Linked DNA regions of Homo sapiens: all the other regions are linked to region 3. The links come from fine-mapping of genetic effects on gene expression. A gene starts in region 3. Each other region holds a variant in brackets. All regions are shown on one strand. Distances are from middle to middle.

Region 1 (10,272 bases), 69 kb after region 3:
CCACATTCTGGCTCTGTTTTGAGGTAGAGGTGATGTTATGTGGACATGAGAGGAGGAGAGGAGTCAGGGATGACACTGGGGCATTTGTCCTGAGCAGCTGTGTCCTGGAGGAGCCCAACCGGGGGATGCAGGAGCAAGAGGTGGGTTTTGGCCAGTGTGTCGGAGAGGCCCGTGAGCCTCCCAGGGGGAGATGCTGAGCCAGCAGCTCGGGCCATGCCGGATCTGGAGCTCAGGGAGAGGCTGAGTGAGGAGGCATCAGCACGTGGATGGAATTTTAGGTCACAGGAGGGAGAGGGTCACCCAGGAAACTAGTGTGCACAGAGAAGAGGAGGCTGAGCCCTGGGCACCACGGGTGTGCACAGGGTGATAAGGGCACCAATTGGGTGCTTTGCAGGACTGTCCGGAATTACTTGTCTAGAGAGAATGCAGTTAATACTGCAGGCCGGTTATCGTGACTAGAAGATAAGGCTCGTGGATTCCTTTACCAGAAAAGCTTGGATTTCATGCTTACCTAAAGGGAAGGTGCCCACGTGCTGCCTTATCTTCCTTTTGAATTTTCAAAAGCAACTCAATCAGTGTATTCTTATGGCAGAACAATTAAGTGATACAGATATGCAAAAGCCCAGACTTTCATGTTCCACCACCCAGAGATGTTCATTCAAGACTCAGGACAACCTTCCCTGACCACCATATGTCCAGGTAGACCCTGTCACTCTCTGTCCCCCACTTGGCTTCATGCTTTCCCCCAGCCCTTAATGCTGTCTGCCGCTACATTACCTACTGGTGTGGCTTTGAAATCCCCTGACCCCTACTGGAATATATACAGGGGCCTTGTCACTTCTACCCATCCCGGGACCCCACAGGCCCAGCGAGGTGCCTGGCATACGGTAAGTAAGGCTGCATTACATTTCATTGAATGGAAGAATTCACATTTTTGGTACATAGCCATCTGGACTTTTTTTCTAGGTAATTACCCACTCTTAAACATATATTTTTAGATAAAGCCCAAGTGTTCAGCTTTTTAGACGTAAGAATGCTACTTATGGCGTTGAATGTTACTGTAAGCTAACTTTGCACTAGTTGGCTGGGGCTGCTGTTTTCAGTCAGTTTCAGCAATGGTGGCTGCACAGGCCTTCAGAGCCCTTCCTGAGCCTGTGCCTGGACAGCAGCGTGAATCGTCAGTCCACCTCATGCTGTCTCCTAGGAGGCTGTGCAGCTGCAGGCCTTCTTTCCTCAACCAAAATGCTGTGCCTGCCCACCTGCCCACTCCCTTCCCTCCCTCCCTCTCAGCCTAATCTGGTATGACTTTGTCTTATCTTTCCTAGTATTTAGACAATTTGTTCCTTTGTATCTTGGAGGATTGTTCCAGGACCCTCCAAAGGATACCAAAATCCATGGATGCTCGTCTCTGATATAAAATAGTGTTGTATTTGCATATAACTTATGTATACTCTTCAGTATTCTTTAAATCATCTCTAGATTACTTATAATACCTAATAGAATATAAATACAATGTAAATAGTTATACCGTATTGTTTAGGGAATAATGACAAGCAAAAAAAGTCTGTACATGTTTAGTACAGATGCAGCTACCCACTTCTTTCCCCCGTATATTTTCGATTCCTGACTGGTTGAATCCACAGATGTGGAACCCTTGGGTATGAAGGGCTGAGTGTGCTGTGAGCTCCTGGACCGCAGGGCCTGCATGGTGTTATTCACTTGTTTTCATTTCCATCCCCTAGCTCTTAGCAAGGTTTCTGGCACTCAGAAAGTAAATGTTTTTAGAATATTGGGAGAGATAGATGTAAAATAATTTGTAAAATCAATTTCCTTGGCTTGATATTTACTCAGTTTATTAGAATAAATTAAACATTTTATTGAAAATATTTAAGAATTTGGGACACAGGCTATGTCTTGAGACAGCCAAACTGACAAATTTTTATGAAGGACAGGTTCTTTCTGCCTGTGTGTGTGTGTGTGAGAGAGTGTGTGTGAGTGTGTGTGTGTGAGTGTATGTGTGTGTGTAGTGGGGGTATTGGGTATTGTAATGAAGTCAAGAGAGTAACCAAGACATTTTCTTCAGGGCTTCTCAGATAATATTATTGTATATTGTAATTCGGCATTTTATCATAAATAAGAATTGTCATTAATTTTTCCCCTTTATAAGTGGTCACTGGAAATGTTTATTAGGCAGCTAGCATCACAAAATGTGTGTGTGTGTGCGTGCGCGCGCGTGTGTGTATGAGGCTTAACGTTGAAGGTCTTTGTTTTGTGTTTCTAGAGTTCTCAGTGGCACAGCTGAGAATGGGTGTGTAAGTCCTGCTTGCCAAAGCCATATCCTCCCTGTGTGGGGTGGGAGTTGCCAGAGAGGCCAGGAGGAGTCATACTAGGAGCAAGAAGGCTGGGAAGGCTGGAGACTGACATTTTCAGGCACTCACATACAATGTGTCATTTAAATTCCTACTCTGTGTAGGTCAGCCACCTTTATTCCCATTTTGCTGGTAAGAAGGTAGCTTAGAAGTTAAAATGTGCACCTATTATTTAAGAAATGTTTTGTCCTTATAGAGACAGGATCCCACCTTGTTGCTCAGGCTGGTTTGTAACTCCTGGGCTCAAGCAATCCTTCCACCTCCACCTCCCAAAGTGCTGGGATTACAGGCGTGAGCCACTATGCCTGACCCACTCCCCTTGTTTAAGGGAAACTTTTGCTATTAATTTTATGCTTGATTTAAGCCTATTAGTTTCAGATTGTTGCCTGACAATTGAGTTCCCTGTTTGTTTTTCCAAATTACTGGCTAGTTCATTTTATGTGAACTTTTTTTAGAAATAAAAGCACTGTCAAGTTAGAATTCATTTATCAGTTTGTCACACGAAACTGGCTCCATATTCTTCTCTACAGTAGAGTGCTTTGGCTCTAGCTGATACCTTTGAATGAAATAGAATATTTTCTTGAGAAAGCGGCACCATAGTTGAGTGCATAGATGCCCAGAAAATATTTGAAAACCAAATCCTCTCATGGTTTGTACTTAAAATTTTTTTTTAGAGATGGGATCTCACTGTGTTGCCCAGGCTGGAGTACAGTGGCTACTCACAGGCACTATCATAGCTCACTGCAGCCTCAAACTCTTGGGCTCAAGTGATCTTCCTGCCTCAGCTTCCCAAGTATCTGGGACTATAGATAGTCATGTGCCACCACACCCAGCTCGTGTGGCTTTTTAAACTTCAAAGGCACATATTTATAGTACTGGTTGAGAAGGTATTTAGGTAGTTCACTTCTAGATAGCGCTTCTGATGGGTGTGACCTCTTCTTGTCCATGCTTACCTAGCATTCTTATGGTGGGCTTTTATCAGGACATTCTACTTTTTATTGCTGGTAGGTAAATGGAGCAGAAGTCACTCTTGTGGTGGAGTAACTAGTGACTTGAGCTGGTGTCTGATCTTCAGCGCCCTGCCATTTGTCAGTCCCCTCTCCCCTCCTTCACAGCCACAGCAGCTTCCCAGGGTTTGCCCTCCAGGACCAGCGGGACCCTGCACTGGGCTGGTTTCTAACTCCCCTTTGTCACACAGGTTCCTCTACCTGGGATGCCTTTCCTTGCTGCTCCTGCTGAAGAATTCCCACTGAAACATCAGCCCTGGGCACCCTTTCTGGACCCTCTATGTGTCCCCGTAGCATGTTGTGCAGAACTGTTTCCTAGCTCTTGGCCGCTGTGTTGGAGGAGGTTGTTCAAGTGTCCATCGACCCTGTGAGAATGGAGTGCCCCAGTGTGGGGGCACCTGGCTTACGGGCTCAGGAGCTGGGCTGCCGTGGAGCCTGGCCCCAGTCACCTTCTCCCTGGCCAATGCTTGTGGAAGGTCCCCATACTCCAGGCACTGTGCCAGGTCCCAGCCGGATGCCATTTGATCCGTGCAACCTGTCAGGCAGATTGGATTCTATTTTACCCATGAGCAGTGTCAGGCGCAGAGCTCTTAGGTATTTTGCCTGAGGCAGCTGGATCATTAAGAGGTCCCCCCCCCCACCCCCAGGGGTCTTGTGAAGACTCATAGATGCAGATTTCAGAGACCTTCTAGATTTGTGCATCCAGGCTAGCGTGTTCTTTGGTGTTGTCCCCTCTTGCTGTCTCTCATATTCAGCTTGTTCAGACCAGGGCTTCAGCTCCTCTTGAGGATTCCACTCATCAGACTGTTGGGTAGGGAAGAGCCTCTGAAACGGC[T/C]GCCTCCAAGCATGGGAAGAGGCCGCTCCTCTTTTGTGGACAAAGGGCCACAGAGGCCCTTTGTGTGACAGGAAGTCCTGCTTCTAGAAGGGGCTGCCTGAAAGTGGAGGGGTTGAAAGAAGCTGAAGCGTTGACCTGGGGCCACTCTGACTCATGCATGTTGTCAATAATACTCTTTGTCTGTCTTGGGAACCTGGCACAGCAGACCTCGAAGGTGGCCTGGAGCATTCCTCTTCTCCCTCCTTCCTGCTCACTCTGCCGCCTGTGAATGCCCCTATTTTCTGACCTGAACAAAGGGCAGCCTCCTGACCCATTCTATATTTTTTCCTTCTATTTATGCCAGGAGAATCTTTCTGTCTCATCTGGGCCTGTGTGAGTTTTCTTTTTTAGGGTTTAAGTGCGTCTCTTGAGTTGGAAAACTTGCAGCTTAAGGGAGAGCTGTCCCACTGGGCAGGTGCCTCTGACGGAGAGGAGGCGTCGTCGGGAAGTATGTGGCCGTGGCTGCTCTGGCATGATCCTGAAGACTGGCACGAAGGGGAATGGAGCCGCACAGAGAATTTCAGGCATCAGAGGGGAAGCGCAGGTACCCGGACCCACGGCCCAGCTCCCTGCAACATGGTCCACATGTCTCCTGTATTTGTGGCCATCTGTCAGTTGTTAAATACTGTGGTTAGGATGTGAGGACACCAGAAGCGAGGGAAGTGGTGGCAGAGATGAGCTGACGCGTCCTCATGTGCTCTGAAGTCCTGATCCCCAGCTGGACGAGAGAGGATCATGTGTGTGCGCATGCCTGTGTGAAGGGATCCTAAGATTATGTTGGAATAACACTGCATCAGTCCTGGGCAGGCAGCTTTGTGTGTTGTGTAACTGGGGCTTCTTGCTGTGGGGACATGGTGGCAAATCAGTGAGCACTTGTTCTTTTTGTTTTTTGAGACAGAGTTTTGCTCTTTCCCCCAGGCTGGAGTGCAGTGGTGCGATCTCACTGCAACCTCCATCACCTGGGTTCAAGTGATTCTTGTGCCTCAGCCTCCCAAGTAGTGGGTGAGCCCGTGGTACATTGCTGCTCTCGCCAGGCTCAGAGGCCAATGTGTGCCTCCTTCCTGGATGCAGTGGCAGTCAGTGAGTGCTTCCACTCCTGCCCCCAGGGACAAATCCTTTGGCTTTATTAGCTTTGTCCTTACTTCCCCCTTAGACTGTGGCAGGTTTGGGGTACCCATACTTCTGGAGACCCTACCCTGGATTATATTAGGTATGTTATGCTCACATGCAGTTTAAACACTTCTTTATGTTATAAAAGTAATTGGAAGGATTCTTATTATTTTGCTTTTGAAACTATTTGGCTATGAGAAGTTGATTTCTCCTCCACCTCCTCTAATTCATTTGTGCATTTGTTCAGAGGGAACAGTGTGTGTGAAGGGGTGGAGCTGATAGGAGTGTGGTGCTTGTGTTGGTAGACACAGGTGATTAACGGTGGCCAGAGCGTGTATAGTGTGGCCAGGAGTGTGGTGTGAGTGGTGAGGCTGGAGGAGCAGTAGTTACAGCCTGGAGGCCCTGCTGGCTTCGGGAGGAAGTAGGGGGAGGAGTTTGAGTAGAGGCAAAACCTGATCTTTCCAGAAGACATTCCAACCACCATGGTAGAGTCACAGTAATGTCATGGAGAATGAAGGGAGTCGGGGACTAAACAAGTGGCTGCAGGTTAGTTAGGACGTTGTTAAGGATTAGGCAGGAGGCAATGGTGGCCTTAGCGAAGGTAGCTATCATCATGGGGACAGAGCCAAGTGGGAGGATTCAAGAGATATTGAAGAGCTGATGTAGTCCGGTCTTGGAAGCTGATTGAATGTGGTAGTGGTGAGGGGGGTTGGGTGTGGGAAGAAGAGGAGTTTCTGGCTTGAGAAGCTGGGTGAATGAATGGTGGGACCATTTCTGACGTAGAAAACCCAGGAACAGGAGTGGGCTCATAGGGAAGGGGATAGTTTGCAAGGACTGTGTGATGGCCAAGTGGAGGCATCCAGTAGGCAGAGATGCGGGTCTGGGCCAGACAGCAGATCAGGGGGCTTGAGGTTAAAGGTGGTTTGGTGTGTGGGCACAGAAGACGTAAGAGAGAGGGCCTGGGACAGAACCTGGGGAGCGCCAGCAGCCAGGAAACAGGCAGAGGAGGTTGAGAGAAGGCACACTGCAGCCACTACAGAAATGAGCTGGTGAGTGTCAGCTCCCTCCCCAAAGACTCCTCTTGCCCTCGTCCCCCACTGATTTTGCTTCTGTCAGCTTGGTAATTGCCGGTGCGTACATCTAGTCACTGTGCAGACTCATTTGAGCATCTACCTCATGCTAAGCACTGGGGATACGGAGATGACACAGCCCTTGCCTCTTTTTTTTTTTTTTTGAGACGAGTCTTGCCCTGTCGTCCAGGCTAGAGTACAGTGGTATGATCTTGGCTCACCGCAACCTCTGCCTCCCAGGTTCAAGTGATTCTCCTGCCTCAGCCTCCTGAGTAGCTGAAACTACAGGGGCGTACCACCACACCTGGCTAATTTTTGTATTTTTAGTAGACATAGGGTTTCACTGTGTTGGCCCGGCTGGTCTTGAACTCCTGACCTCAGGTGATCCACCCATCTTGGCCTCCCAAAGTGCTGAGATTATAGGCGTGAGCCACCGCGCCCAGCTACAGTCCTCACCTTATAAGTTGATGTGTAGTGGATGCGCTGTGCCACTCTGCCTTTTTTGCTTATACCCAATTTCGGATGGAAAATAGCTCACCTGCTAGTTCTCTGTAACGGATGTGTTGTGTCCTTTCTGTCAACTCGTCATTGTTTTCTTAGCTTTGAGCAGCTGACTCGTTTCCAATTTTTGCTGTTATAAATATTGCAGTGATGAACATTTTGTCCAAGCTATTTTTTCTTTGAGTTTATTTGCTTGGGGCATGTTCCCCAGAGTGGGACTTAAGGGTCAGAGGTTGGTAACTGTTATCTGCCTTGTTCTGTATTTTCAGATTTTTCCATGAAGCCTATTAGCAATGTTAGAGTACATTTCTGTTTTCCTGTAGCCCCACCAAAACTGGCATTGTCATATTAATTTTCCTTATTTTACAAGTTATTTCCATATTTTAAAGGAAGTTGTGCTTTTTTTTCCTGCATGGGAATTTGTTGTATTATATTTAGCTAGGTTACATTGCAGTAACAAGCAAACCCCAAGTCTCAGAGACTTAGCCTAACACAAATGTCTTTCTCGCTTGATCTGTGTGTCCCTTGTAGGATGGCTGGGGGTGCGGTTCCACAGAGTCCCTCAGGCCAGGCTGATTAAGGAGACAGCACTCTCTGAGAGCTGCCACTCGAGGCCTGCTCAGTGGACAACACAGTAGACAGGAGAGGCTGGGGGCTTTGTGTGGACTTTTCACTACTGATGTGGCCAGGACTACCAACACAGTCTGGCTTAGCAGGTAGAACTTAGTGAGCATTCCTGTCTCTGCCCAGCCATCTCCTCTTCTGTTTGTTCCTCTCCAGCAACTTCTTTGTCCAGTGGAATTGGATCCTCTGTCTTCATATCAGCTCTTAATGTATTTTAGGTAATAAGATTTTTATCAATTGTGTCTTTTTCTTTCTTTGCTTTCTATATTGTATTGTGCAAAAGTTTAACGTAAGTTTTGGACACATTCATGTTTTCCTCTGATACCTTATTATCACAAATTTCTTTTCTCAAAGCCAGAGAATAAGCTGCTTTTCTTTGAGTTGCTTAAAATGGATTTTATTTGGCTCCTTATGACACTTGAAATTCATCAAAATATATAATGTCAGGTGGTTTTAATCTAAGTTAATTAGGTCCTTGGTGATGCCTGTTCTGCAACATTAAAACAAAACAAAAGAAAGAAAAAACACCCAACCCCAAGCAACACCTCTTCATGACAGAAACACTCAGCAAACCAGGAACAGAAGGGAACTTGACTGGATAAAGGGTATTAATCAAAACTTCCAGGGCTGGCAGTGAAAGACTAAAAGCTTTCTTCCTACAATCCAGAAGAATAGGACCTTGATGTCTGTTCTCACTCCTTCTGCTCAATATTGTACTGGAGAGTCTAACCAGGAACTTCGAAGTTAGACAAGAAAACAAAAGGCATACAGATTGGAAAGGAAAAGGTAAAACACTCTCTGTTCAAAGATGGCATGATCTTATATAAAGAAAATCATAAGGAATCACCAAAAAAACTCTTAGAATTAATATACAGGTTCAGCAAGGTTGTAGGATATAAGATCAATATACAAAAATAACGATATTTCTATAATCTAGCAAGGAATAATTCAAAAAATGGAATTAAGAAAACAGTTTCATTTATTATAGTATATAAAGAATAAAATAGGAGTAAATTTATGAAGAGAAGTGTAAGACTTATATTCTGAAAATTACAAAACATTGTTGAAATAAATTTAAAAGGACCTGAATAAATGGAAAGAGATCCTACATCCATGGACTGGAAGACTTCACATAGTTCAGATGGCAGTACTCCTCAAATTGAGCTACAGAGTCACAGCAGTCCCTTTCAAAATCCCAAAGCAACAAGCCAATTCTAAAATCCCTGTGGAAATGCAAGGGACCAAGAATAGTCAGAACAGTTTTGAAAAGTCAGAGAACAAAGTTGGAGGGCTCACACTTCCCAATTTACAAAAATGTATAAATCTACAGTATTCAAGAAACAGTGTGGTGCGGGCATAAGGATAGACATGGAAAAATGAGATAGAGTCAAGAAAACAAAACTAAACCCCTACATTTATGGTCAGTTGACTTTGGACAAGGATGCTAAGCCAGTTCAATGGGGGAAAGAAAAATCTTTTCAACAAGTGACGCTGGGACAACTGGATATCTGCTTGCAGAAGCATGAATTTGGATCTCTGCCTCATGCCACATATAAAACTTAACTCCAGATGGATCAGAGACCTAAATGTAAGAGCTAAATCTGTAAAGCTTTTTTAATTAAAAAAACGTTTAAAAAAATTAGTCATAATAAGTGATGTAAAACTCTTAAAACATAGCATAAGTCTTTGTCACCTTGGATTAGGCAGTGTTTTCCTAGATATGACACCAAAACAATCAACAAAAGAAAAAAGTGGGTAAATTGAACTTCATAAAAATTAAGAACTTTTGTGCTTCAGAGGATGTTATCAAGAAAGTAAAAAGACAACTCAGAATGGAAGAAAATAGTTTCAAATCATATATCTGATAAAGATACCTTGAATACATAAAGAACTCTTGGGTGGGTGCATTGGCTCACATCTGTAATCCCATTACTTTGGAGGATCACTTGAGGCCAAGAGTTTGAGACCAGCCTGAGCAACATGAGACCCTGTCTCTACCAAAAAAATTGAAAGAATTAAAAAAAAAAAAAAAAAAGAACTCTTAAAATTCAATAATAAAGGCCGGACACAGTGGCTCACTCCTGTAATCCCAGCACTTTGGGAGGCAGAGGCGGGCAGATCACCTGAGGTCAAGAGTTCGAGACCAGCCTGGCCAACATGGTGAAACCCTGTCTCTACTAAAAATACAAAAATTAGCTGGGCGTGTTGGCCCATGCCTGTAATCCCAGCTACTCAGGAGGCTGAGGCAGGAGAATCGCTTGAACCCAGGAGTCAGAGGTTGCAGTGAGCCGAGAATGCGCCACTGCACTCCAGCCTGGGTGACAGAGTGACAGAGTGAGACTCTGTCTCAAACAAAACAAAACAAAACAAAAACCCCAAACTCAGCAATAAGAAGACACACCAGTTTAAAAAATGAGCAAAGGATCTAAACCGACGTTTCTTCAAAGATAGTATACAAATGGCCAATAAGCACATGAAAAGATACCCAATATCACTAGTCATTAGGGAAACACGAATCAAAATCACAATGAGATATCACTTCCCACCCACTAAGATGGTTACAATAAAAAAGACAACATGTGTTGGTGAGGATATGGGAAATTGGAACTGTCACACACTGCTGGTGGGAATGTCAAATGATGCACCTGCTTTGGAAAGCACTCTGGCTGAATGTTGGAAACTCCTGACTTTGGAAGTTTCTCATTATGACCCAGCAG
Region 2 (10,272 bases), 140 kb after region 3:
ACAACACGACCATGATCCCACCAACTAACAAAACCACCTGGCCACCAAACTGGTGGCCCTGCATGCTGAGATGAGGGGGTGCGGGGAAGTGTGTACCAGTGTGAGGTCATTGACCTCGAGGCACATCCCCACCAGATGAATGTGCCCACTTTAGCCATGTCTTAGGAATTTCACACGTTTTCTAGCTGCCCCTGGATATTCTTGAGATAGGCCACACCTGCTTTTTAACATTTCCTGCCTTGTAAAACCCCTTCTTGGGACAATCTGGGAGGGAGCAGCTGTGTGAGGGGGATGGAGTGGGCTGAAAGACAAGAGAAGGAGGACTTTTTTTGAATGCCTTCTTCCTGCACCCCATCATGTACATATCAGAACACTGTGAAGGAGAGATGTCCTCATCTGATAAAGGACAGTGAGGCTCCAAGAGAGCTGCAGGATTCAGCCCCAGCCCCACCTTTGCTGTGGGCCAGATCTGAGGCTTGAGGGTAGCCAGGCACAGCCCTTCCCCACAGGGAGAAGAGGACATGGGCGTGTGGCACGCTCAAGACCATACACACTGAGTTCTGGGGAGACTGCCCTTTGCCGGCATCTACCTGTCTGGGCCTTGCTCCAGCTGAGAGACAGGGCAGATGGCAGGAGTGTGATTCACCTTGCAGGAGTGGAGGAACTGGGACTTGAACTTGAAGTCTGTCAGAATCCAGAGCTCCTGTTTTTTCTTTGCATTTGGAATCTGGGAAGGCCTGAGACACTCCAGGGGCAGGGTGAGCCAAGGGCTAAATGGAAATGAACCTCTGTCTTGTGCCTGGATTTTCCTTTAGACCAAAGAGAAGTATGAGAAGTCCCTGAAGGAACTCGACCAGGGCACACCCCAGTACATGGAGAACATGGAGCAGGTGTTTGAGCAGTGCCAGCAGTTCGAGGAGAAACGCCTTCGCTTCTTCCGGGAGGTTCTGCTGGAGGTTCAGAAGCACCTAGACCTGTCCAATGTGGCTGGGTAAGTTTCCTTTGAGCTAAAACACACACGTCATTGAAGTCAACGGAAAGTGCTTTTGAAGCAAACTCAGATGCTGCTCCCAGGTTTGGGATGGCGCGTTCATCAGGAGGTCTCCTCACCGCCCTCAGGGCCTCCTGCTTCTTTGTAATCTGGATGGCAGGGAGGGCCCCTCTGCTGAGTGTTTCTGCAGCTGCAGGCATGGCCGGCTGGACCTCTGGAAGGCCTGGTTGACCCGGCCAATTGCTGGCCCAAGCAGATAAGGCCGGGCCCACTCTGCCAACTCCATGTACAGGTCTGGGTGGGAATGGAGATTGCCCATTCTGGGGCCACAGCTAGGACCAAGGCAGCTGGCATATCTTTTCTTTTCTTTTTTTTTTTTTGAGACGGAGTCTTGCTTTGTCCCCAGGCTGGAGTGCAGTGGCGTGATCTCAGTTCACTGCAACCTCCTCCACCTTCTGGTTTCAAGCAGTTCTCCTGCCTCAGCCTCCCGAGTAGCTGGGATTACAGGCATGCGCCACCACACCCAGCTAATTTCTGTATTTTTAGTAGAGATGGGGTTTCACCATGTTGTCCAGGATGGTCTCGATCTCTTGACCTTGTGATCCGCCCACCTCGGCCTTCCAAAGTGCTGGGATTACAGGCGTGAGCCACCGCACCTGGCCGCAGCTGGCATATGTAAGATCCACTGGAGGTGAATCTGGCATTTCTGGGCTGGTCGTGCCTGGGACAGTCTTTCTTTGAGGCCCTTTGTGATCAGGTGACTGCTTAGTGGCTCTCAGCCCCCAGGACAGCACATACCCTCTGAGACTTGGTTCTGAATTGTGATATGGAAGCTGTGCTGTTTCTTCTGTGCTTTCCTCATCTTTGGTTCTGTGATGCCTTCACCAGGGCAGAGGTCCCAGCTAAGTCAAGGACGTGGATTACTGTCATCCATCTAGCAGAACCGTGTAGGGATGCGTCACGGGTCAAGGCTTGCTGTTAATAGGAGACACATTCCGTTTGTCTCCCTCTGTGTAACAATCATCAAAAGCAACAGTTACTGCACCGCTGCTGCTCTGCCACCATTCCATTTTTATGATAGTCTTGTAAAGTGGGTGGCACTGACCCCATCTTATTGATGAGGAAGCTGAGGCTGGGTGAGATTAAATGACTTGCCCGAGGCTGCTCTGCTGGCAGGAGCAGGGTGAGGCTGGCCTGTGTCAGGCTCTTCTGCATGTGGAGTGACTCCCATCGTGTGGATGCTTGTCTGTCTCTGTGTCTGGATTTCCCCCTTTTAATACAGGCACCAGTCATATGGATTAGGGCCCCTGCTAGTGACCTCATTTTAGCTTGATTACCTCTATAAAGACCTTATTTCCAAATAAGGCCACATTCCGAGGCACTGGGGTTTGGACTCCAGCATGTCTCCTATGAAGGACACAATTCAACCCTTGATGGAGGGGATCATGCCCACTCAACGGAGGAGGAAACCGAGGCCCAGAGAAAGTACATGACTCACCAGCCATAAAGATTATAAGTGAAAATATCAGGTCCAGCAGTGATCCATACTCTTCCCTGGCAGGGCAGCTTCCTAGGAAGGTGAGCCGATGATGGCTGCCAGGCGGAAGGCAGCCCCCACCCCGTCTTGGTGGTGGGTGTGTTCAGCACCGGGTCATCTTCACGCTCTGCATTGGCAAGTCTGGGTATAAAGCTTTTCTGGACAGAGATGAGGAAGGAGGGGTACTTTCTAACACCCTCCAGTTTTCTCTTCCTCAACTCTGGGCCTGGTGAAATGGGACCACACAGAGTGGTGGCCCACACAGCCCACCTGCTGGTGCCTTTTGCATATGTGACACAGAGCAGGGCTTAGTCATTGCCACCTGCTTGGCTGGTTTGATTTAAAGCTCATTTGTCAGGAGCCATCTGTGCACGTGGCGGCCCGTGACCTTCCACCTGAGCCAAGGGAGGAGTGTTCTGGCTCTGTCTGTGAAACCAACTCACAGAGGGCAGAGACCACGGGACCTGCTGTGGCTGGCACTGGGCTGGGACAAAGGGTAGCTGGCCCCTGCCTTCTAAAAGAGCCACGTTTCTCTCTGATTTAGCTACAAAGCCATTTACCATGACCTGGAGCAGAGCATCAGAGCAGCTGATGCAGTGGAGGACCTGAGGTGGTTCCGAGCCAATCACGGGCCGGGCATGGCCATGAACTGGCCGCAGTTTGAGGTAAGAGGAGGGTGTGCCCATGAGCTCATCAGCCTGGAAGAGGACCTGGGCCCACAGAGTTGCTAGATGATGTCTTTCTCATTCTAGACTCTATGTTAGTGTTTGCCCTGTTTATCAGGCAGCCTTTAGGCATAGCTATAGTACAGACCAAGTTCTGGCATAGAGTCCTGGGGGGCTGCAGGCATTACCGAAGGCCTTCTGAACCTCTCCTGAAGTCGCGGTTATGTCCTCTCTAGTTGGGAATGTTTGACTGTCACTTTTTGGCCACTGGCATTCCCTTCCTTCCTAGTCAGTCTCAGGAGCCGTAGGCACACAGGACCTCAGGTCCCTGACCCACCCTGTGGGATGGCCAGGAAGGGAGCAGCCACAGTGCTCCCCTCACGGTGGGCCAGGGGAGGGGAGGTGGTCTCAGTGGGCAGCCCTCCCTACCCTTCCAACAAAGGACTTTTCCCTACTCCAGGCAGTAAATTCAGTGAATCCTGATTCAAAATGAATGTTCTTCTTTTCCCATCATGTGGGTCTAAGCTTTCATTATCTTTACATTCGAAATGCAAGGGCCTGGGGATCTCAGGACTCACCTAGCCCTTGGATTGGTCACTAGGCCCCACCTGGCACCCTGAAGGCAGTGGGCAAAGGTCCTGGTGCCCCTGAGGCTTAAGCACGTGGCGTCAGCTGCCCCAGCAGGGATGCTGAGGGCGACTACCTCTGCTGTGGGCGTGGGCCTCGTGGCTTCCCCGACTCAGCAGCGGCCAGAGCCCGGGCTGCATTCAGATTCTGCTCACCTCTGACCACCTGTGGGAAGCTGAGCAAACTATTCGCCCTTTTTGTGACTCAGTTTTCCCACGTGTGGAATGGGAATGACAAGAGCACCCATCTCCTGTCGGGGGCTGTTAGGGAACATGGTGACTTTGTCCACGCAGGGCTATTGACCCAGGCCCACCACTCAGAAACCTCCTGGGCGCCTCATAGCCTGCAGTTTTGTCAGTCCTTACTCCTGCACTTCTTTTATGGCCCTTAACAGGAAGGTTTTTCCAAATGACAGTGTGGGCCCTGCTGCCGAGCACTCCCCTGCGCCAGCCCCAGGACTTGCTCCCAGTAGGAGGCAGTAGAGCAGCTGTGCCCCTTCCACAGAGGCACTGAGAGAGCATGGAGGGCCAGAGCCGTCCTGACTGGAAGCGGCCCTAGAGGGGACAGCACAAAGCCCAGCCTCTCCTCTGGAGCCACACACCAGGAAGTCTTGGCTGACGTGTTTTGTGCACAGCTGGGGTTTCAGACACAGCGAGGATTTGCTGCTCCCGGAGTGGCACAGGAAACCACCTGTGAAATTCGCCTGGGTCCCTTAGAGGTGCCCATTATACCCAAAGAGGGGCACAGTGGGGAGGACTATTTGACAGTCTGTCTCCTGGAGGGTGTCCCAGCCAGAGCCTAGGGGGTCCTTCTCTCTGTGGGTCCATGGGCTGGGAACCAGCCCCTGTGCATTCATTCTGCGCACATTTGCAGCTGTTACGGGACCATGCCTTTCTCTAATGCAATTCTTTGTTTTTATTTTTCATGCCACAAGGATGAAGTAAGTGTCTGCGTTCGGCTACCTCATAGAGTGCCATACGCCATGCAGGGTGTCTGTGGCCCGCATGGGTGGGTGTGCTGCCCCCGCTAGGCTCCTAGCAGTTCAGCTGAGGCTGCGCTGCTGTCAGGGGTATTGAGAGCCGGCCCTTCCCATCAGTGCCGGCTTGGTGTTGATCCCATTGGCCTTTGGAAGCCACCCAATCAGGATGAATTTATATTCAGAGGTCACTGTGGAGAACTCTGAGGTTCCAATTGAGTTCTCAGTCAATCTATTTTGGTCAGAAAATAATTAATAGATGAAAAGGTGACCCAGATTTGGGGTCGGGCCCAAGTCTGCCACCCACACTGCGTGGGCAAATCACATTGCCTTTCTGGGCCTCAGTTTCCTAATCTGACAAATGGACAGGTTAGACAGGATGCTTCTGAGTTGGCTTCCAACCCAAAAGTTCTGTAAGTACGTGTGAGCAGAGCCGTGGACTCAGCCACACCAAGTTTTAATCAGAGTTGTCTGGTAACTGGTGGAGATGGGGGGAAGGAGAGCTCATTAAACACCTGCGGGCATGCACAGACTCTTCTAGAAAATCAAGACACAGTCTCCATTCATGGTTTTGCCCTAGTCCATTTTCAGTGCGGTTGGTGAAGCCAGTTCGC[C/T]ACCCGAGAACTCGTGAGGCTTCCAGGAGGAGCGTACTCTGCTTTGCTTCGTTAGCCCCAGCATGTGCTCAGATCACAGAGGAAAAGTCCCAGGGCAGCAAAACACTGGGGAGGGCCCTGCGCTTTGGAGACTGAGAGTCTGCTTGCCTGCCCCTTCTGTCAGCGGGTAGCCACCTAGCCCTGGTTTTATTTGCAGTGGCTTTATTTGCACCTGGTTTTATTTGCACCTGCCTTTCCACATGGCAGGCTTGCTCAGGTCTCCGAAGCCAACTGTCTTGACCCTGTGGCCCAGGGACAATTTAGGGCATCGACGCAAAGGATCTTCAGCACTTCAGGACAGGTGCCTCAGAGGCTGGCTCCTGTCTACTTTGGGAGGCTCAGCAGACATCTGGGGAGGCCACAGGGGCCCATGCTGGCCTGAGGGGGCTGGGACTGAGAACCTTGGTGGGTGGGGTCAGGAACAGGAGGCCCCGGACCTTGCCCTGGTCCTCGCCACCCCCGCTGGTCCTCTGGGAGGTGGGCAGCATGGCCTGGGGGTGGTTGTAGAGGTGCAAGCCTCCAGATCCCCTGATGAGCCCCTGCTTTGAACAGTGAGGAGGGGCTCAGGTCGTTTGGGTTCATAAGTGGGGCATGGGGAGCCTGAGGTCTTCTGGGAAACCAGGGAGAGCTGGGGCCCTGAGTCTACACATCAGATGCACAGAGCCAACTGCAGGCTCGCTGGGCAGGAACTGAGGACAGACGTGGCTTCCAGCAAGTAGTGAACCTTTGGTTTCTCTCCCTCGGCACCTGTTGCCTAGGAGTGGTCCGCAGACCTGAATCGAACCCTCAGCCGGAGAGAGAAGAAGAAGGCCACTGACGGCGTCACCCTGACGGGCATCAACCAGACAGGCGACCAGTCTCTGCCGAGTAAGCCCAGCAGGTGAGTGGGCGCCACCTCCATCCAAAAGAGGCCGTTCCATGGTGGGGGCCCTGGGCAATCTGCATGGTCCAGGGCAGCCCCGGCCTGGACACCTGGGAGGTTCCTGGGCTCCTGAGCTCTGTGGGCCGTGGCCCAGCCTGGACACCTGGGAGGTTCCTGGGCTCCTGAGCTCTGTGGGCCGTGGCCCAGGGGCATCTCCAGGGAAGGTCGTCTTCCTGCCTGGTGCCAGAGCTGCTGACAGATCCAGAGAGGGAGGCTTGGCCCTGAGCTTCAGACCTGAGTGGGGAGGAGCTGATGACAGGGCTGGCATTCATGTCCCCAGGGATAGCACCGCCCTGCCCGGACACTGGTGGAGGTGCCACCCTGGTTCCCTCAGGCAGCTGAGGTCCTGCCGAGGTTCATGCTCACTCTGTATTGTGTGCAGGCGCCAGTCGAGGGAGGGACAGGAGAGGACTGCCAGGCATCTCCTTTCCAAATTACCTCTTCACTAGGAGCATTGGTTATTTCTGACTTAGTCATTGGCTGAAAATGAGAGATATAAGGGTGGCACTGTGGTCATTAGAACCTTCTGGAAAGTGTGTGCTAGAGGAGGTCTTCCTATAGGACCTGCCCACAGGCCTCCATGTGACACTCAGTAATAGTCATTTCATACGGGGGCTTCCTAAGAAGGCTTAGCCCAGGTTCCCTTGGCCTTCCTGCAGCCCCAGGCACTGAAGCCCCCACCCAGGCTCCCCAGCAGGTGTGGCTGTCGTCATTCCGCTGCTTTGCACGCTGTCTGGGCAGGTGGGCTCGGCAGTAAGTGCCTGTCCCAGGGATCAGGCCAGCACCTGTATGCTTGGGGGTGGGAATGGGAAAGAAGAAACACTGCCTCAGAGGAGACCCTGGGGGCCCTGGGCTGGCCAGGGTTGCTGCACAATCCAGCCGCCCCCACCAGTGCCGTCTCACAACAGTCTGCTAGAGAAAGGTGCCAAGGAGGGAGGAGGGCCGGTGAGCTCAGACATGTGGCCTGGATATTGGCCTCCAGCAGGCCTAGGTCAAGTACCACTTGCCAGGCTGAAGTGGATGAGGCAGTTACTGGCCACTCAGGATCACCCTGGTGGCATTGGAGGCATGTCCTCGCCTCCCTTCCTTGGTTCTGGGGTGGTGGGTGCTCAGGCTGAGCAGTCCATCCAGTGCTTTGGGGGCCTGTGCCCTGAGGCCCTGGTCTTGGAAGTAGAAGGTGCTGCTGGCCAGGGTAGCCCGGTCCTAGGATCAGTTACTTGGTGGGGTGCCAGGGCCCTTGGTGCCTGTCTGATTGGATTGCTTGATGGTCTGCCTGTGGTCTTCGTAGTGTGTAACTCAGCTCCCGGCTCCCAGCCCTCAGGCAGAGCTTGGCCCAGATCTCTCTGGTTCCCACACTGGGCCTGGCAAACAGTAGGCAGTTGCACGACTGGATTTTCCCTCTGGAGCACCAAAGGAATCTTCTTTCTATCTAGAAAAGACGGTGCCGCAGGCCCTGGCCCTGATTTTGGAGGCTTCAGCTCCACAGAGCAGAAGAGCGAGCCCTGAACCCCTTAGTAGTCAGGAGGAGGCCGTGTGGGCTGAAGAGCTCAGAGCCCTCTCCCACTCATCCATGGGAGCCGGCCCCTCCCACACTGTCACTCTCAGAGGAGACCCTGAGGGGCTTTTTGACCCCCCCAGCTCACATTGGTGGGAGTCAGGACAGAGGAGAAGCCCTGAACCTGGAAACGACTTTTGCTCCAGCTGTGGCTTGTCACCCGCCCCTGGGCCACCCCAGGGCCCCTGTTCTGGACGGACTGTCTCCAGGTGCAAGGAAGGAAAAGGGAAACCAAGTCCTCTCCTAGGCTCCTGGACCGTGTTTCACAGCTGAAGTATTGCCCGCATTCTGCCATAGTAACCTTTCTGTTGAAACACCACGGTCCCCTCCGGTCACAGGAGGAGCTGATTTGTCTCTTGAGATCCTGCAGCTAGGAGTTGCCAGGACCCTCACGGGCCCCTGCAGAGCTGGGATCCCCTGAAAGCTCTCTCTCTCCATAGCACCCTTAATGTCCCGAGCAACCCCGCCCAGTCTGCGCAGTCACAGTCCAGCTACAACCCCTTCGAGGATGAGGACGACACGGGCAGCACCGTCAGTGAGAAGGACGACACTAAGGCCAAAAAGTTGGTGAACAAATGCTTCCTCTGCTCCCACCGCGCTCACTCTGTCTCTCTTCCTCTCTCTCTGTCCAGGGGTCTCACCCCTCGGCACTCGGCAATGCACGGAGCTCTGCAGGAAGTGGGCACCTGGCGTGCCGCACCCTGGCCCACTACCTGCTCTCTGGCACAGGCTCTCTGGCACCCCCATTCCTCGGGGAGGGCACAGCTAACAATCTTAAGTTGCTTTTTCTCTGTCCTCTGTTAACCCTTCAAGGCCCTAGCAGCACCATGACAGGAAAACAGACAACGCGCAGTCTGTGCTGGGGACTAGAGAGTGAGGCCCCAGGTTGGCCTCTGCTGTGGGCATCTCCAGCCGCCTGCCCCTGGAAAGCCTGTTGATGGCTCAGGATGAGTGTGGATGGCATGAACTCACACTAGCACTGGCTCCACCTGTGCTCCTTCGGAAGGAGCCCTCAGCCCTGAGCCCCAAGGCTCCAGTGCCCTCCCCTTGCGGGGCGGGGGCCTCACACCCTCTGCCGCCCTGTGCTGAGGGCCCTGTGGCCTCCCCTTTCTTGCAGTGTGAGCAGCTACGAGAAGACCCAGAGCTATCCCACCGACTGGTCAGACGATGAGTCTAACAACCCCTTCTCCTCCACGGATGCCAATGGGGACTCGAATCCATTCGACGACGACGCCACCTCGGGGACGGAAGTGCGAGTCCGGGCCCTGTATGACTATGAGGGGCAGGAGCATGATGAGCTGAGCTTCAAGGCTGGTAGGTGGGCTCCCCCAGCATCCAGGGGAGGAGGGCTTCCAACCTGCAGGCTGTGGGCGGTCTTTTTTGTTTTTTAAGTCTGGAAAAGTTCTTGCTAGTTTCACTTGTGAGTCACTGCAGGCCCTTCCCCAGTGCCCTGGCTTCATTGTCAAAAGCAGCCAATTGGCTGGATGTGGTGGCTCATGCCTATAGTCCCAGAGCTTTGGGAGGCCGAGGTGGAAGGATCGCTTGAGCCCAGGAGTATGAGACCAACCTGGGCAAAATGGCAAAACCTGTCTCTACAAAAAATACAAAAAATTAGGCCAGGCATGGTGGCTCACGCCTGTAATCCCAGCACCTTTGGGAGGCCAAGGCAGGCAGATCACTTGAGGTCAGGAGTTCGAGCCCAGCCTAACCAACATGGTGAAACCCTGTCTCTACTAAAAATACAAAAATGAGCCAGGCGTGTGGCGGGGCATCTATAATCACAGTTACTCAGGAGGCTGCGGCAGGAGAATCACTTGAACCTGGGAGGTGGAGGTTGCAGTGAGCCAAGGTCACACCACTGTACCCCAGGCTGGGTGACAGAGCAAGACTTTGTGTCAAAAAAAAAAAATTAGCTGGGCTAATTTTAGTGGCACATGCCTGTAGTCCCAGCTCTCTGGGAGGCTGAGGTGGGAGGATCACCTGAGCCCAGTAGATTGAGGTTGCAATGAATCATGATTGTACCACTATACTCCAACCTGGACAACAGAGCGAGACCCTGTCGCAAACAAACAAACAAATAAATAACCTGGGCAACAGAGCGAGATCCTGTCTCAAATAAATAAACAAACAAAAGTAGCAGATTAGCTGGGCGTGGTGTTGCATACCTATAGTCCCAGCTGCTTGGGAGGCTGAGGCAGAGGATCACTTAAACCCAAGAGGATACAGTGAGCCATGTTCATACCACGTACTCTAGCCTAGAAGAGAGAGCAAGACCCCATCTCTTAAAAAAAAAAAAAAGTAGGCTGGGCATGGTGGCTCACGCCTGTAATCCCAGCACTTTGGGAG
Region 3 (10,272 bases):
CAATAACTTTAAAAAAAATTAGTTTTACAATTGCAGGATGCCTTTTAATTTATCTAATTAGGAGCTGGCAAAAGGTAAGATGATTGGCTGGATTCAGAATGGAATCTGTTGGCTTCTGGGACCTCCTCATCCTCCTGCATAGCAAGGACTCAAGGAGGGACTATTGCCGGAGTTTATATCTTCCTCCCAGAGTAGAAAATACTTTAAAATGTATCACATAAAGCCTGGGCATTGTTAGGTTTTCATTCCAAATTTTAAAACAGTTACTTTGAAATTGTTGACACTGGCCCACTTTGGTACAAATGGTAACACTGTAAACCCGAATTCTCCAAATGAGCTTTTCCACTTAGTAAAATAAGATAGAAGTAGAACCAACTGAAGAACTTGCAAAAAAATTGAGTGATCCCATGGCCGGGCGTGGTGGCTCACGCCTGGAATCCCAGCACTTTGGGAGGCCGAGGTGGGCAGATCATGAGGTCAGGAGATGGAGATCATCCTGGCTAACACGGTGAAACCCCGTCTCTACTAAAAAAATACAAAAAATTAGCTGGGCGCAGTGGCACGCGCTTGTAGTCCCAGCTACTCGGGAGGCTGAGGCAGGAGAATGGCGTGAACCCGGGAGGCAGAGCTTGCAGTGAGCCGAGATAGCGCCACTGCACTCCAGCCTCGGCGACTGAGTGAGACTCCGTCTCAAAAAAAAAAAAAAAAAAAAAAGAATGGATTGATCCCAATTCAGGGCACCTGGGCAGTGCCCAGTGCCCACTTGGGAAGCCCTGTTTGTATGCTGCTCCATACCTACCTTTGTCTGGGAGCAGGCTCCAGCCGGGCATGGCAGGAGTGGAACATTGTACTTGCTGGTACAATTTGACGTGAGCAGACATGTGCAGCCAGAATGGAACAAAACAAAACAAAGCCAGGGAGATTGGGGTAATTGCCTCCTAATCAATGACACATTTACAAAGAATTCAGATCTTTACACGTACTTGGCAGGTGAGCATGTCATTCAGAGGTATGTTCAGAAATGTGTTCCTCCAGCCGCCATAGTTAGTGCTTTGATATGGCCAAAATATTAACAGTTGGTGCACAGCACGTGTTCTTAGGTTTGTTTTCCATTTATTTATTTATTTATTTATTTATTTATTTATTTATTTATTTTTGAGACAGGGTCCTGCTCTGTTGCCCAGGCTGGAGTGCAGTGGTGCAATCTTGGTTCACTGCAGCCTCAATCTCCTGGGCTCAAGTGATCCTCCCACCTCAGCCTCCTGAGTACCTGGGACTACAGGCCTGCACCACCACGTCTGTCTAATTTTTTTTTTTTTTTTTTTTTTTTTTGAGACCAGGATCTCATGATGTTGCCCAGACTGGTCTCCAACTCTTGGACTCAAGTGATGCTCCCGCCTTGGCCTCCCAAAGTACTGGGATTTTAGGCGTGAGCCACCACGCCCAGGCTTTTCTTTTAGACACGATTAAAAATTTAAAAAAGTGAATATACCCTGAAGCACTTTTACAAAATCAGGGGTCCTTGAACACACTGAACAATGACCTGTGCCAGGCCCCATGCTGAATATTGCAGAGCGAACTCACAAATCCTCACAGATTCTCTAAGCTAACAATCACTAGGTTTTGTGATTATCCCCGTTTTACAGTAGGGAAAACCAAGGGCTGGAGTAGTGAAGTCACTTGCCAGGGCCGCAGAGCTCCTTGCCGCTCGGCTGCCTTACTGCCTTGTTTCCCCTGGCTTCTCTTTGTGCCTGCAATGCAGCCAAGTGGAACCCTCCTCTCTTCCTGGACAGGAGGAGTTCTTGCCTCCTGATCTTTGCTCTCTGTAATCTTCCACTCATTTTGGCTCAGGTAAACAGCACTGTTTTCAATACCACTGCACCCTCTTCTGTTCTAAACTCTATGTCCTTGCCAGATCTTTCCAGGAACATCAGCAGGACCCAGGTCCACCCCGAGCCACCTTCCCTGCCTGGCACGTTCTAAATATTGGAATTATTGAGTGAGTGAATGTCTGTAACTGATTTTGATTTTTTTTCTTGAAAGACATGTATCACTGTACAATCCATAAATCACTGTACTTATCACACTGAAAATACACGTATCACTGTATTTTCAGCAATACAACTATATCTGGATGTTTTAAATTTTTTGAGAATATGATATTCTCTGTGCAAGTATGTTTTAGCCCAGACTGTCTGTTTATCCAGGCTGCTTAGTGGGAAATGGTTAATAAAGGACTAAACTAAAGCCGGTCAGTCTCAGTCCCAGGCACTCTGTGGCAATGGTCACATTTTGGGGGAAGGAAGGAGCAGCTGACAAGGCATGACCACATGTCCACCGTTCAGACACAGCATTCACAGCCGTGTGCCCGGAACAGCTCTCCATGCTTTGACTCCTTACCACAGCCCTGTTGCTCTTCCTAATCCCCATATCACGGAGGGGACACAGAGGTGCAGAGAGCTGCAGTGACTGGCCCAAGGCCCCTTGGCTGAAAAGGGGTGGAGGCAGGATTGGGCTCCAGGCCTGTTCAAATATGACTGAAGGAGGAGGCTGGATGGAATGTTGTGAAATGTTTGTGGGGAACAAAGTTGGGGTGCTCACATGTGGCAACGGGGAGCTATCTTTGGAAAAATACCCTGATAAGCTGCCAGGACAGAAGGTATAAGGCCCAAAGAGTTCAGGCAATGATGTCAAGCTGCTAGGTGCAAGACAAGGAAAGGAATTTTGTGTTTGTCCTGAGAAGGAGGAGGAGAGAAAAGAAGAGGGGGAGAGTGCAGAAAACCAAAGGCATGTGAAGTGGCCAGAGTGTGGCATGGGTCACGTGACCAGGTGGTGACTCCTGGGGCCAGGCAGCCAAAAAGGCTCACGAGGCATCCTGTCTTGTTGCTGGGCAGTGCCAGGCTTGATGCCTCTCTCCAGCTTCCAGTCTTCAGGAACCCCTGCTAGACTCAGCAGTGCTTGGAGTGCAGGGGGATTCGTGCAACTGGATAAGGGGATGATGGTGAGACCAGTGAGCATGCGGTGTGTGGAAGAGCAGGAGGCCTGATGACAGACGCTTGTTCAGAAACCTTGGGAGAGGCTGCGTACAGTGGCTCGTGCGTGTAATCCCAGCACTTTGGGAGGATGAGGCAGGAGGATTGCTTGAGCCCAGGAGTTCAAGACGAGCCTGGGCAACATGGCGAGATTCTGTCTCTACAAAGATTTTAAAAAATAATTAACTGGGCATGGTGGTGCGCACCAGTGGTCGCAGCTACTTGGGAGGCTGAGGCAGGAGGATGGCTTGAGCCTAGGAGGTCAAGGCTGCAGTGAGCCATCATTGTGCCACTGCATTCCAGCCTGGGCATCAGAGTGAGACCCTGTCTCAAACAAACCAAAACAAAAACCCCCAAAAATTTGGGAGAGGCTCTGTATTTCTTTTTTTTTTTGAGGCGGAGTCTCACTCTGTTGCCCGGGCTGGAGTGCAGTGGCGCGATATCAGCTCACTGCAAGCTCCGCCTCCCGGGTTCACGCCATTCTCCTGCCTCAGCCTCCCGAGTAGCTGGGACCACAGGCGACCGCCACCACGCCTGGCTAATTTTTTGTATTTTTAGTAGAGACAGGGTTTCACCATGTTAGCCAGGATGGTCTTGATCTCCTGACCTCGTGATCCGCCCGTCTCGGCCTCCCAAAGTGCTAGGATTACAGGCGTGAGCCACAGCGCCCGACAAGGCTCTATATTTTTATAGGGCATGGAATTGCGATGTAAGCGGAACTTACCCAGATATGAAAGTGCTGAGAGCTGATGGCTGAGTTCTATCTATACAAATGGTCCACAGGTATTGTGGGTGGCAAAGAGGTCCCTGTTGGCTCAGTCCTGGAGAATGAGGAGAGACTTCTTGGCAGTGGTTTGTCCTGGCACTGTGTGTTGGTTTTTTTTTTTTTTTTTTGAGATGGAGTCTCGCACTGTCGCCAGGGCTGGAGTACAGTGGCGTGATCTTGGCTCACTGCAACCTCCGCCTCCCAGGTTCAAGTGATTCTCCTGCCTCAGACTCCCAAGTAGCTGGGATTACAGGTGCATGCCACCACACCCAGCTAATTTTTTGTATTTTTAGCAGAGACAGGCTTTCACTGTGTTGGCCAGGCTGGTCTCAAACTCCTGACCTTGTGATCTGCCCGCCTCGGCCTCCCAGAGTACTGGGATTCCAGGCGTGAGCCACCGTGCCTAGCCGGTTCTTTTGTTTCTTTCTCAATTATTGTCATAAGGACAATGCCACAGAGCAGTCTAGAAAGTAAACAACCACTAGATTTCTTTGTGGACTCTTTTCTCATACCTATCTATATGTAGCAGCAATTCTACAGTTTCTACCATTTTGTATCTAGCTTTTTCTTTTATTATTATTTTCTTTTATTTTACTTTTTAGAGAACTGGGTCTTGCTATGTGGCCCAGGTTGGCCTCAAACTCCTGGGCTGAAGCGATTCTCCTGCCTCGGCGTCCCAAGAAGCTGGGATTCCAGGTGCATGTCACCATGCCTGGCTCTATCTGGCTTTTTCTTTTAACGTTTTAGTTTAAGCATTTTCCCATAGTGCTACACAGTCATCATTATTATTCTCAAGGGTTGGGCTGACCTGGGTTTCTAATCCTGGCTCTGCCATTTACTCTCTTTACTCCACATCACCCCCAGCAAGTTACCTGGCTCACCCCTCACCTGGGGTTCCTCTCACCATCCTCTCCACCTGGATGACATGAAGCAGTGCTTGGACAGCGCGTAGGACAGTGCTCAGGAAGTGCTCTCCATTTTCCTTCAAGAGTATTTCCCTCTGCAGAACGGGGCTAATACCCTATCATGCAAGGTGATTGTGAGAATTGGAAAGAATGCGTGTGCATTGCCTGGTGCCTTGCCATCCAAATATATTTTATTAGAGAGAGCAGCAACATACGCCCCCCCAACCCCCCGTTTAAACTAAGCGGGTCCACGTGGAATGACGCTTTTGGCGCAAGTCGGAGGAGCTCCTAACGACATTAGCTTCTTTGAGTCCCTTGGGAGAGGAAACTTTCTGAAAGACTGTAGGATTACCTTCCCTGAACTTCCGGTCAGGTGCGGTGCTGCCCTGCCGCGCCCTCTTACCCCTGGATGCCGACGAAACCGCAAAACTCCAGCCCCGGGAAGCGCGTCTCAAGGACCACCACCAGCGAGCGGCTTTGGGAGAGTAATCTGCGCCACCCTCGCAGCCCATTAAATAGGCACTCCCCGTTTGATTGACAGGAGAAGTCACCAATGCGCGTCCTGGGGCTTTCCCTCGTCCTCACGCGGGGTGAGCCGCCTCTCTACTCATCTGGCCCAATCGGGGGCGCCGGGGAGGCTGTGGGGCGGGGCTCGGTGTCCGGTAGCCAATGGACAGAGCCCAGCGGGAGCGGCGGGGGCGGTGCGGTCGCGGCTGGCGGCAGAAGCGGCCGCAGGGGTCTGGGCAGGGCTGGGCAGTGCTGCCGGAGCAAAAGCGGTAGCGGGAGCCCGGCCGGAGCTGGGTCTGGAGACGCCGTGGCAGCCTGAACGGAGTGTGCGACGGATTGGGAGGTGAGTGGCCGCCGAGGTCAGGGGTCGCCGCGACGGTTGGGGCGCCGCGGGCGGGACGCGGGGGCGCTGGTCCGCGGCCGGGCCCGCGCCCCGTCAGGGCCGCCGCGCCGAGCTCCGCGCCCTGAGGGAAGCGGGTCGGGCCGCGCGGAACTTCCTGTCTCTGTGGGAGGGGGCGAGTGCTCGGGGCCCCGGGGGGCGCCTGGAGAAGACATCTTGGGGAGGACGAGGGCGAGTGGGGTCGGCTCGGGGAAGGGGCGGGGGCCCATGGGGGCGGCGCTGTGGGAGCGGGGCAGTTTTCCGGGGTCCGGGGCCTGCTGGAGAGGGAAGTGCAGGAGCAGGGCCGTCGGGGGTTAAGAGCTGCTAATGAGTGGGGGAGGTGTAGACAGCTGCAGAAGGGGGAGCTGGGGCGACTTTTGGAGGGACGCGATTTAGGAGAAAGCTGGGAATCCGAGACGTGCAGAGGTTAGGCGAGGGTGCCGGAGCAACGCTGGAGGGAAGGCGTGGCTGGGACGCGCCGGTGAGAGGGCAGGGCTTAGTCCTGGGGTGGCCTGGGGGGCGACGCAGGACACACGCGGGTGCGCTGATTTCGGGCGCTTTGATGAGCGGCCTCCATTTCCTTCCTTCCCACCCTCCGTGTCCCGGGGGGGGGGGGGTGGTGTGTGTGTGTCTGTGTGTGTGTGTGTGTGTGTGTGTGTGTGTAGGGCGGGGGGAGCAAAGCCCTTACCGCAGCACGTCCTAGGGCTGGGGCCAAGCAGGAGAGGCCGGGGAGGTTTGCCCTTGTGACCCTCCTCAGAGTTTCCCCAGACTCACTGAATCAGAAATCCGAACTCCTTACTCCTCTAGGGCTTTCAAGCCTGGCCAGGCATCCTGAGAGGTCCGCAATTGGAGAGGTAGTGATTGCTGCTGCTGTTGAATTTCATTGATTCATTGGGTTTCGGCTCCATCAGAGAAGGTCGATTTTCTTTTCAGAAGGAGTTGGTTGGTCAGGGGAGCAAGCTGTGCTATTGCTTTGGGGCCCACACGGCTGCAGCCTTTGACGTATAACAGGACCTGGGGATGCCACTCTTGGCTTGGGTGCCTGAGGGAAGGTGGCCTTTGGCTGGGTGTGTGCACCATTCCTGGATCCTGTCTTCTCTTTTTCCCTCCGCCTGTCCGGTGTTTTTGTGGTTAAGGGGGTAGGCTGCTCAGAGTCTCCAGGGCTACTTGGTACACTGTTTACCAAATACTGCCTGGCTGTCTTGATGAAAATCAGGAAACCAGCTCAAAGAGTTTGAACCTCAGCTGCAGATGGTGAGCTCACACCTTCTTCCTTCCCTCCTTTTCGGTGCCTTCCTCTGCGGTTATTCCCGTGTGCTGAAGTTCTGTTTTAACCCTCCTGGGATTGCCAGGTTGGAGCCCAGGGCAAGGGAACCGACCAGGCAGGCAGTGTTGAATGCCAGCCCTCCTGTTCTTGCCCAAGATGTTGTCGTTCCACTTGATTCATGAGCCTGCCTGCATGCAGCCTCCTCATGGAGACATTGAAGCTGTGCCAGTGCAACTTGGATCTCTCTTGATTCACCTGGAAAACTTTCACTTGTGTGGACTTAAACTTAATTCTAGAGTTTGGTAGCCTCTTTGGTGAGGTTATGCTGGTTGAGATATGAGGCCACTACATCAAAAACATTGGTGTGTTTTTCTTTTGACAATAGACTTAAAGCTTTAAAGAAAGTGGCCATTAGGCTGGTGATATTTATTACTTGGGAAAGTAACATAACACAGAGAAGTAGATGGGTGATTAGGTCTGCACTCTTTATCCACTTTTTGGGAGAAGAATAACAACTCATTTGAATGGAAATGGTATCCTTAGCTCGTGCTGCTTTGGGACTTGGAACTTTATCACTTTTAATCTCAAATGTATATGAAGTTGTGATGTGATATTTAAATAATCTAGGCTGGGCGGGGTGGCTCACGCCTGGGATCCCAGCACTTGGGAAGGCCGAGGCGGGCAGATCACCTGAGGTCAGAACTTAGAGACCAGCCTGGCTAACATGGTGAAACCCCGTCTCTACTAAAGATACAAAAATTAAGGCCGGGCGTGGTGGCTCACGCCTGTAATCTCCAGCACTTTGGGAGGCAGAGGCGGGCGGATCACCAGAGGTCGGGAGTTCGAGACCAGCTTGACCAACATGGAGAAACCCCATGTCTACTAAAAATACAAAATTAGCTGGGTGTGGTGGTGCTCATACCTGTAATCCCAGCTACTTGGGAGGCTGAGGAAGGAGAATTGCTTGAACCCAGGAGGCGGAGGTTGCGGTGAGCCAAGATCCGGCCGTTGCACTCCAGCCTAGGCAACAAGAGCAAAACTCCTGTTTCAAAAAAAAAAAAAAATTAGTCTGGCGTAGTGGTGCACACGTGTAATCTCAGCCTCAGCTACTTGGGAGGCTGTGGCATGATAATTGCTTGAACCTGGGAGATGGAAGTTGCAGTGCACTGAGATCACACCACTGCACTCTAGCCTGGGTGACAGAGTGAGACTCTGTTTAAAAATAAATAAATCTAAAAGTATGCATATATTTAAAAAAAATTCTGGATTTCCACCAACATAGCATTCTGCAGGGAGATAACATGAACTTTTCCCTAATCCTGGATACCCATCCACATCTCTGATGGCCAGGCATTTCTGGAGTGGGAGCAGAGGGGCATTTGTCCTTGCTTTTTTTTTTTTTTTTTTTTTGAGAGAGAGTCTCTGCCCAGGTTCAAATGATTCCTCTGCCTCAGCCTCCTCAGTAGTTGGGATTACAGGCGCCTGCCACCTTGCCTGGCTAGTTTTTGTATGTTTGTATGTATGTATGTATGTATGTATGTATGTATGTATGTATGTATGTATTTATTTATTTTGAGACAGAGTCTCGCTCTGTCGCCCGGGCTGGAGGCAGTGGTGCGATCTCAGCTCACTGTAACCTCTGCCTCCCAGGTTCAAGTGATTCCCCTGCCTCAGCCTCCTGAGTAACTGGGACTACAGGCATCCACCACCACGCCTGGCTAATTTTTGTATTTATAGTAGAGACGGGATTTCACCGTGTTGGCCAGTATGGTCTCGATTTCCTGACCTTGTGATCCACCTGCCTTGGCCTCCCAAAGTGCTGGGATTACAGGCACCTGCCACCTTGCCTGGCTAGTTTTTGTATTTTTAATAGAGATGGGGTTTTACCATGTTGGCCAGGCTGATCTGGAACTCCTGACCTCAGGTGATCTGCCCACCTCAGCTTCCCAAAGTGCTGGGATTACAGGCGCCTGCCACCTTGCCTGGTTAGTTTTTGTATTTTTAATAGAGATGGGGTTTCACAGTGTTGGCCAGGCTGATCTGGAACTCCTGACCTCCAGTGATCTGCCCGCCTCGGCCTCGCAGATGTCCTTGCCTTTTGTTTCTTCTCTATACCTTGAAAGTCTGTGCTGTGTTAAGGGCGTCATGCTCAGGCTTACTGATTCTGAAGGGGTTATCAGTGGATGATTCCGGATGTTGTGGAATATCAAACAGATCGAAAAGTTTCTTTAATAATAGTGATGGCACCTTGTGTTTAGAGTTCGCAGTGGCATTTACCAGATGCTCTCTGGCCACCTTCATGTGAACCTCCCAGCTGACTCGGGCCTGCTTTATCTGCCATCAGATTGTAATGGCAGCTTTGTGGAGGCCGCCCTGTAGATTATGCGATTAATGACCACATTCATGTGAGCAATAGTGCTGGCTTAGTTTTTTTCCAGTTAGGTTGTTTGGAATGGTAGCTGCATACCTGAGGGCAGTGCAGCAATGCCTTAGTTACGAAGGCAGTTTGCATTCCACAGGTAGAGTCTTTCCTTATGGCCAGGGCACTGATCCCTCACATACCAGAAAGTATCATTCGTCCCTGCCCCAGACAGACTCCAGATGCGTCCCAGTGGTGGTTCTTGGGATAGTTTTGTAGGAATTTCTGCAGAATTTTAGTGTTCAGATGAGTATGCTCTGTCTGTGGACTGGAGACAGGCTTCAAAGAATTCTCAAATTATTCTGCACAATACATCATTTTTTGGTATCTCTGCAGTTCCAAAGGTAACTACTTGAGGGACAGTGGCCACCAAAGAGCACAAGTTTTGACATTTTGATGAAAAGCACACATAAAACAAATAAAAACCACCTTTCCTTAAGTTACCTATTGAATTGTGCTTATTCCCATAAATGCATGTTCATCTGTTTGCTTAATAAAACTTAAAGCACCATAGAGTCTTTCTTGTTTCCTAGAATAAGGTCTTTTTTCTTTTCCTTTCTTGTCTTTTTTTGTTGTTGTTGTTGTTGAGACGGAGTCTCGCTTTGTTGCCCAGGCTGGAAGTGCCCTGTGGTGTGATCTTGGCTCACTGCAGGCTGCGCCTCCCGAGTTCATGCCATTCTCCTGCCTCAGCCTCCCAAGTAGCTGGGACTACAGGCGCCCGCCGCCACACTTGGCTAATGTTTTGTATTTTTAGTAGAGACGGGGTTTCACTATGTTAGCCAGGATGGTCTTGATCTCCTGACCTTCGTGATCTGCCCGCCTCTGCCTCCCAAAGTGCTGGGATTACAGGCGTGAGCCACCGTGCCTGGCCGGTCTTTTTTATTTTCAATTAAAAAAAAATATATATATATATGTATTTTTAAACAGAGATGGGATTCCGCCATGTTTGCCAGGCTGGTCTCAAACCCCTGGCCTCAAGTGATCCTCCCATCTCGGG

Evidence for each region.
Region 1: its variant is fine-mapped to the expression of PACSIN2 in nucleus accumbens (GTEx, PIP 0.97).
Region 2: its variant is fine-mapped to the expression of PACSIN2 in whole blood (TOPMed, PIP 0.91).

The regions. Positions count from the first base shown.
Region 1 is chr22:42,941,419-42,951,690 of GRCh38, reverse strand. All of the region lies in intron 1 of PACSIN2 (protein kinase C and casein kinase substrate in neurons 2), which reads left to right. Among named protein-coding and RNA genes, the nearest start is that of PACSIN2, 69 kb to the left of the region's middle. RefSeq lists enhancers at 3,240-4,131, 4,132-5,024 and silencers at 6,515-6,594, 9,554-9,780. The variant T/C (reference allele first, on the strand shown) is at 4,212.
Region 2 is chr22:42,875,105-42,885,376 of GRCh38, reverse strand. PACSIN2 (protein kinase C and casein kinase substrate in neurons 2) reads left to right here. Exons shown (of 11, transcript NM_001184970.3): 6 at 816-991; 7 at 3,073-3,193; 8 at 6,208-6,329; 9 at 8,367-8,489; 10 at 9,044-9,240. It overlaps LOC101927393 (a long non-coding RNA gene), which reads right to left. Exons shown (of 3, transcript XR_001755575.2): 3 at 9,847-10,272. Among named protein-coding and RNA genes, the nearest start is that of ARFGAP3, 23 kb to the right of the region's middle. RefSeq lists enhancers at 2,360-2,933, 2,934-3,508, 3,509-4,083. The variant C/T (reference allele first, on the strand shown) is at 5,411.
Region 3 is chr22:43,010,302-43,020,573 of GRCh38, reverse strand. PACSIN2 (protein kinase C and casein kinase substrate in neurons 2) reads left to right here and starts at 5,425. Exons shown (of 11, transcript NM_001184970.3): 1 at 5,425-5,553. RefSeq lists enhancers at 4,938-5,137, 5,120-5,823 and silencers at 5,258-5,447, 5,458-5,507, 5,628-5,697.